3 separate regions of the Homo sapiens genome follow, and all the other regions are linked to region 1. Evidence: fine-mapped expression QTL. A gene starts in region 1. Each other region holds a variant in brackets. All regions are shown on one strand. Distances are from middle to middle. Region 1 holds the start of ERMN (ermin). Region 2 overlaps CYTIP (cytohesin 1 interacting protein). Region 3 has its middle 40 kb from the start of CYTIP.

Region 1 (2,856 bases):
GTTACTCAGGAAGCTGAGGCAGGAGAATCGCTTGAACCCTGGAGACAGAGGTTGCAGTCTGCCGAGATTGCACCATTGCACTCCAGCCTGGGCAACAAGAGTGACACTCCGTCTCAAAAAAAAAAAAAAAAGCTGTATGTTAATTGTAGACTTTTAGGAAAGACCCGTTTTTGAAACATTTACCTTTCACAAGGTGCACACACAGATTTGGACACACCAAATCAAAAAGTAGGGTTGACTCAGTGGACTAACTTAAGAGATAGACATCACGTTGGTATGCCAATCAGCTATGCCATTCCATGCAGCCTCAGCCTTGAACAGTCTGGAATGCTTTATAAGGTGGAACCCACAGATAAGTTAAGACTCTCTTATCTGCCTACAGCAGCTTTGAAAATTTGAAGTCATTGCCTGGATTGCTTTGTCAACCCCACGCTCATGCAACATTTCATGGAAAGACTGTCATCCATACTCAGTCAAACAATTTCTGTGTACAAAACTGTAGTTCTTGTTACCTTCTCTGAATGTCATTTCATCAGCACTAGTTTCTTGGAGAGAAAGATCTGTGATAGCCTTATGAACAATAAAGAGTTTCTCTTCTGGGTTTTCTAGGAAAAAAATATAAAATCAGTATTTTAACATTTAAAATATTTATTGTTCAACAGTTAATAAGTTATCAATTTAAACTCTAGGTAGAAGTCTTTAATTTTAAATCTGATCATTAAAATTTACTATTTCACTCTTTGGATTCATTCTTTATCAATTCAATTTATTTACTTAATGATCACTTTATTGATTGTAATCTCTCCTTTAATATTTATATAAGATATATATATAAGATATAGAACCATAAATTCAGAGAACTTCAGTTATATTTAGAAGGAAATTTTAACATTTTGAATTCTCTTTGTTCAAATAATATGGGGCTGTCCATAATCATAATAAATACAGTAGTTAACATTTAGCCAATACTTACCCTAGACTTGTAGTTATTATTATTATTCCGCCTTCTTCTAGTGAAAAAAACTCAGGCTTCGGGAGACAGAAAGTTGTCTGGGGTCACAGCTGTCAAATAGACCAGCCTGGATTTCACCAGAGGCAGAGGTTTAGTCCTTATACTATGCGTAGTAGAATAAAGGGCTACATTTTTGGGGTGTCCAGCTCATTTCGATAATAGTTTATCAAAAAAATCCAGGGTAAATTTATAAGTCAAAACAAGAAAATTAAGGAGAAGGGAAACACTTTACCTTTTAGCATTTTGTCCTCCATGGATGAGTTGAGCAGCATGTTCCCTTGTAATTTTCTTCTTTCCTCCTGACTTCCTTTGGTGAGTGCACCTTCCAGACTGGGTTCTACCCTGTAGTGTGGCAGGGGGCTGTCCACATCAGTCAATTCCTCACTGATTTTAGTGATTGTTTGTTGACCGTTTTCAGGTGGTTTATCCCCATTACACTCAGCCTGGGTAAATGTAGCCGGAACATCTGTCATGATGTGCGGTTGAATCCGATCTGGAGAGAGAGCTTTAGGGAAACTGAGTGAGTAGATCCTTGATAAGATACCTGCTCTTGCCTTCAAGTCCTATAGTTCCAACTCCTACTCTAAGAGCACAAATTATTCACTTTAGTACATAATAACAAGGTTCTTTTCCTAAAAGTATCCAGACAGAGATTAGAGCAAAAGCAAGAGGATTTGTCAGATCTGCCAGGAGCCATGAGCAAGAATCCAGCCAATCACCACCTTCTTTGTTGCTTGCCAGTTCCCTGGCAGAGTTAAAGGCATCCTTTTGATTTACATAAACAAACAATCTGAAGCAATCAGGCTTTTGTGTTGGCATGTAGAGAGGGACTTTCAGCTTGTCAGTCCCCCTCTGGGAACAGAGATTTTTGTCCCTTTTCATAATGGCCCATTGTAATTTTCCCTGTAACAGGAGCCACAATTGTCCCACAGCTTTAATCCAGAGAGAATGACCACCTTGAGGCATATTAGTTCTGTGTAACCAGCTTAACATTTCCAAACAGATTTTGTTCAAGTAAAACCTCAGCTATTTTGTAAAGGACAATGGCATTGTTTCTTATTTATTAAAAAATAAAACAGCTTATGGAAAAAACCTATAAACAGGACAACTTTACTGTAAATGGTTCTGGCTGCAGATTTGATGGTGTGCTTCCAGCAGGCTGGAGAAGGGACCTATGAAATAAACAAATTCTACCAACTTGCTAATACCAAAAGTTTTATAATTTCAGAGTAATTTACTTAGTCTATAGCTTCTTATCCTCTAGTTTATGTCTGCTGAAGCCCAGCCGATCCTTTAAAACCCTAATAAAATTATCGCCATGAAGGTTTCTCCTCCCCCAATCAGAATTACAATCCTTTCTATTCCATACTGATATTACACAATGCTGGTAAAATGTAGAGGACCAATGCAATCTGCCCTTGGGAGAAACAGGTGATTATGTTAAATGACTGCTACTGACCACCCCTTCCTTTTTAAATCTTTTTCTTTTTTGGATTTCTCATAGTACAAAATGGTTCCAGAGCCTTTGCCCACACAGCTCCTTCTATGTGAAATGCCCTTCTCTTCCTCAAGCCCAAGCCCTGGGCTGACCAGCTTCCCTAAGTTCTGTTTTTAAGCTTAAATATCATCTCCTTAACTACACTATCTCTAACCGCCAGGATTAGGACAGGACTCTGTTACACATTGTCTTTGCCCTTCAGAGTATTCTTCATGGTTGTAACTAAATAAGCAACTGCACAATTATCTCTGTAATGTCTGTTTCACCAACTGCAAACTAAGTTTCATCTGGCGAGGGGCCAGTTTAACTTGCTTACATGTGTCCCCAGCACTTAGCATCTGGCTTG
Region 2 (2,500 bases), 89 kb after region 1:
TGAAATATAGAACATGACATACCCTTCCTTCCTGTACTTTGGTTAACCAGTACTTTTTTCTTTATTCTCAGAACATACCTCGACTCTAATTCTTACCGCAAACTAAAGTGATGCTTGCTCCGTCCCTTCCCTGCCCCTTTTTTGCATTTGAGGTCTACTGTCATACAGCAGTGTTACACTTCTGTATTAAAATCACAAGAAAAGCAAATGATCTATGGTCTGCTTTCCCGTATGACCTATGTCATTCTGTGTAGTTCTCAAAGCATTTTTTCACCTTGTAGAAGATTTCAAAGTCATCTTTCCTCAAATAAATGTGGTGTTTCCTTCCCCTGGACTTTGTGAAATAGGATAACAAGAAATGCTGAATTCATATAAGTAGACCTTTAACAGGATGATTCTAGACTATGATGAGAAATAAGCAATACCAGTTGAATCATAACTGGTTTGCAAGCTCTTGTTGAAAATAAATGCACTGCTAATCATGTAGTTATTAAAGAACCTATGTCTGAAACTTGTATATGAGGAACAGAGAAATGTTTGTTTTCCTATTTACCCAAAGAAATGCTCTTATCTGTGCAGCATCTATAATTGTACATTTTAAGTATTCCTGTTGGGTGGAATAAAAAGTACTGTGATGATCACTAAACAGAACCAAAAGAGTAAAAGATATCTGGAATAGACTAGAGCAAGGAAGAACTGGCTTCCAATTTTAGCCCTGCCACTGACTAGCCTTGTGACCCTGAGAACATTTCCAAATTCCTGACTTGTTATCTGTATGCCTAACACCTACTATATAGTAATTGTGAGGATCATACGTAAAGTGTCTTTAGCCAACTAGGTACTCAGTAAATGGTAGACAGTATTGCTATCATTTCTGTGAAAGGTGTGACACCCTGCCTTTCATATGAGTGACTGTCATGCACAGGCCACTGGATGTTTCTCAGTTCAAAGAGTTAATAGAAGGCAAGTCCCAACTAGAAATCTTTTCATACTTTATCATTTCTTTCTCATCTTAGATGCTTCCTTACCCTACCCTCTTTTATCTCAAAATAACTCATTTCTTAAGCAGAAGTTTAATTAAATTTAGCAGCTCTACTTAAATTGAAGTGTTTCTATTTCTCCCAAACACACACACACACGCACAGAGAGAGAGAGAGAGAGAGAGAGAGAGAGAGAGAACTTAAAATCAGCAGACTATTTATTACATAGTCCAGATTGTCTACTCTAGAATATAGGTTATGAATAGCTGTGCCACCAGAACAGAGAATTCATAGACTTCAATGGATATTAAATAAAACATGGAGTAATTGAAAGGCTAGAAGTAATGTGATACTAACATAACCAATAGGCAAAAGACTGCTGAGGTGATAGCTATTTAGAATATAAGATATAAAGTGAGAAGTAATATGAAAAAAACTACAGGAGGGAAGTCCTTTTCCCAACCCTCAGTTTTGGATGTTAGACATTTGTAGAAAAAAAATTACAAAGCTGTAGGATTCGGAGAGTTCTAGACTTGCCATTAATGTTCAGGCAGAACAAAAGCTGAATTGGGCAAAAAACA[C/T]GACATCCCCACCCATTTTGTTTAGACTGTCTATAAAAATGACTTTATTATGATCTTTGCAGCACCCATCTCAGACCACATCTTTCCATGGTTCTCATGAACCTTAACCCCTCCTATTAAATCTTATACTTCCCGCTTTATTGTCACTATAGATGTGAGAAACAGCTGATGGTCATCTTTGTTTACAAGCCATTACAGGTTTGAACAAATTCAAAATTGCCTATTATTAAGCCTCCGCAGGAGCTACTGGGCATAAGCAAACCTAAGATTTTATAACCCAGCAATTATCCTATAGAAAATAGTCCAGATTATTATATTCTGCCACACCTTTATTCATACTTGACTCCAAAAAGTTCTCAATTATTCACAGGGATAATCTAGAAAATAAATATTAGTTTTGCTTTCAAAGACATTACTGGAATGAGCAGGAACCTGCATCTTTGTTATATTAATTAACTTATTATTTAGTTTTCCTGTCTGCTTAGAAATTGGCTGTTTAGGTTGAAAAATGATTTAAGAAGCATAAACTATAACACAACAATTTAAATAAAGGTCACTATTGCTGTGAAATGGGATGTCAGTTTTGCAATTCTTCTGCACTTTCCCACCAAGCTGGGATCTGGGTGAGTCTAGAGATATTTGTGAAATAAGCTAATTTGAAAGGACACCACAATCCGTCAAAAGCGACTTTCTTCCTCTTCCACAGCACGATGAAGGCCAGGGATAAATTTCAAGAGTTGCTTTCGGACACTTCCCTTTCTGCTCTTCCGGGGCAGGGTCCCAAACATGCTTGATAAGTTGCCCTCCCACAAGGGAGACATGGATCCGCTGCTGGTGTTACTGATGCTCCGGTTCCTCCTTGAAGATGACCTCCTCAGAAAATCATCCCCCTCCTTGGGGATAAAGCACTCATCATCTGTACTCGTCTGCCGACTGAAG
Region 3 (2,856 bases), 78 kb after region 1:
TCCAGTTGATCAAATCGGCTACTGAAGCTTGTGCATGCGTCACGTAGTTCTTGTGCCATGGTTTTCAGCTCCATCAGGTCATTTATGGTCTTCTCCATGCTGTTTATTCTAGTTCGCCATTCATCCAATCTTTTTTCAAGGTTTTTAGCTTCTTTACAAAGGGTTCGAACATCCTCCTTTAACTCAGAGAAGTTTGTTATTACTGATCTTCTGAAGTCTTCTCTCAACTCGTCAAAGTCATTCTCCATCCGGCTTTGTTCCGTTGCTGGTGAGGTGCTGTGTTCCTTTGGAGGAGAAGAGGTGCTCTCATTTTTAGAATTTTCAGCTTTTGTGCTCTGAATTCTCCCCATCCTTGTGGTTTTATCTACCTTTGGTTTTTGATGATGGTGATGTACAGATGGGGTTTTGGTGTGGTTGTCCTTTCTGTTTGTTAGTTTTCCTTCCGACAGTCAGGACCCTCAGCTGCAGGTGTGTTGGAGTTTGCTGGAGGTCCACTCCAGACCCTGTTTGCCTGGGTATCACCAGCAGAGGCTGCAGAACCACAAATATTGTGGAACGGCAAATGTTTCTGCCTGATCCTTCCTCTGGAAGCTTCGTCTCGGAGGGGCACCCGGCCATATGAGGTGTCCATCCACCCCTACTGGGCGTTGCCACCCAGTTAGGCTACTCGGAGGTCTGGGACCCACTTGAGGAGGCAGTCTGTCCGTTCTTAGATCTCGAACTCCATACTGGGAGAAGCACTACGCTCTTCAAAGCTGTCAGACAGGGATGTTTAAGTCTGCAGAAGTTTCTGCTGCCTTTTGTTCAGCTATGCCCTGCCCCCAGAGGTGGAGTCTACAGACGCAGGCAAGCCTACTTGAACTGCAGAGGGCTCCTCCCAGTTCGAGCTTCCCTGCCACTTTGTTTACCTACTCAAGCCTCAGCAATGGCAGGTGCCTCTCCCCCACCCTCACTGCCGCCTTGCAGTTCAATCTCAGACTGCTGTGCTAGCAGTGAGCCAGGCACAGGATCTAATCTCCTGGTGTGCCATTTGCTAAGACCATTGAAAAAGTGCAGTATTAGGGTGGAAGTGACCCGATTTTCCAGGTGCCATCTGTCACGGCTTCCCTTGGCTAGGAAAGGGAATTCCCTGACCCCTTGCACTTCCCGGGTGAGGTGATGCCTCGCCCTGCTTCAGCTCACACTCCGTGGGCTGCACCCACTATCCAACAAGCCCCAGTGAAATGAACCCGGTACCTCAGTTGGAAATGCAGAAATCACCCATCTTCTGCATCGCTCACACTGGAAGCTGTAGACTGGAGCTGTTCCTATTCGGCTGTCTTGTAACCTCCCCGACTTGTGGCTTTTTCAATTATCCATTTCTCTTTTCAGAAGTGTGGAAGCACC[A/G]CCAAGTAAGATCCCAGCATTTTCAAAAGATTTAGGACAGAAAATGGAAACATGATCAATAAAGGTTAGTTTCCAATGCTGAATCTAGCAATCAGGGGCTTAGGAAATTAATTTACATATTGAAGAGATATGATCTTCTGTTCATGCTGATAATGCAGGTTTTACTGGTTAAGCTCAGAATAGGTAAAAATAAAAAGTATTTGCTGGCCTGAAGAAAGAAGTCTGTGGGAAAGTAAAGATGTAAGAAGTGGGAAAGACATGCATTCATTTCAGTTAGAAATACCAGCAAAGAGAAAAAGGAGATAGAAATCATTGGAGGCAAGGGAATTGAGGGAACTCCTTCTAGATGGCTTCCACTTCAGCAGACTAGGAGTCATGGTTACATGCAGAAAATGATGTTGAAAAGCATGGAAATTTCATACATTCATGTTGGAAAATCTAAGAGGAGGTTATTAGGAGGTAGCTTTCTTCTTAAGACACTTTTAATATTTTTGACATTTTTTATCATTTTGCTTATACTCCATCCCGATTACAGTTCACCAACACCAGAGCTAACAGAGAAATTATAAACTTCCAGGGTAGTGTTTCTCAAAACATGGTTCCTAGCTATTAATGCAAGAATCTTTTAGGGAACTTGTTTATACAAAGACTTCTGAAACCCACCCAGGCCTATTCAACAGAATCTCTGGGGCCCAATGCCTGAGAATCTGCACCTTTACGAGTTGCTCAGGTGATTCTGAAGCAGCAAGCCAGCATTTGACGGGAGGCTGCTGTTTTAGAACCACTAGATTAGCTCATGTCTCATCCAGGTAGTCTCATGCATGACTATTCACCCACATCCTGTTTTTAATCAGTGGTTCTGTCTGTAGTTTTGAAACTCAGAATAAAATGTCACATATTGTGGTGAGGAAATAACAACCATGTCTTCAAATACAGCTGGTTGGGATCAGATCCCTACTCATTATCATTTTCTATGTTTTTCCTATTTTTAGTTTATACTTTTAAAATTTACTTACATCATTTATTGATAACCAAAAATGGTAGAGTTATTATAATTAAGCAATTTTTATAATAATAAATAGCATTGTCTAGCAAGCTCATTTCTTTTTTTTATTATTATACTTTAAGTTTTAGGGTACATGTGCACAACATGCAGGTTTGTTACATATGTATACATGTGCCATGTTGGTGTGCTGCACCCATTAACTTGTCATTTAACATTAGGTATATCTCCTAATGCTATCCCTCCCCCCTCCCCCCACCCCACAACAGGCCCCAGTGTGTGATGTTCCCCTTCCTGTGTCCATGTGTTCTCATTGTTCAATTCCCACCTATGAGTGAGAACATGAGGTGTTTGGTTTTTTGTCCTTGCAATAGTTTGCTGAGAATGATGGTTTCCAGCTTCATCCATGTCCCTACAAAGGACATGAACTCATCATTTTTTAAGGCTGCATAGTATTCCATGGTGTA

The links.
Region 2: its variant is fine-mapped to the expression of ERMN in whole blood (TOPMed, PIP 0.95).
Region 3: its variant is fine-mapped to the expression of ERMN in whole blood (TOPMed, PIP above 0.99).

The regions. Positions count from the first base shown.
Region 1 is chr2:157,324,158-157,327,013 of GRCh38, forward strand. It overlaps ERMN (ermin), which reads right to left and starts at 1,667. Exons shown (of 3, transcript NM_020711.3): 1 at 1,245-1,667; 2 at 513-605. The coding sequence starts at 1,485. RefSeq lists an enhancer at 1,551-2,100.
Region 2 is chr2:157,413,439-157,415,938 of GRCh38, forward strand. It overlaps CYTIP (cytohesin 1 interacting protein), which reads right to left. Exons shown (of 8, transcript NM_004288.5): 8 at 1,181-2,500. The coding sequence ends at 2,239. Among named protein-coding and RNA genes, the nearest start is that of CYTIP, 29 kb to the right of the region's middle. RefSeq lists an enhancer at 264-313. The variant C/T (reference allele first, on the strand shown) is at 1,562.
Region 3 is chr2:157,402,370-157,405,225 of GRCh38, forward strand. No RefSeq gene overlaps it. Among named protein-coding and RNA genes, the nearest start is that of CYTIP, 40 kb to the right of the region's middle. RefSeq lists silencers at 2,160-2,209, 2,240-2,339. The variant A/G (reference allele first, on the strand shown) is at 1,387.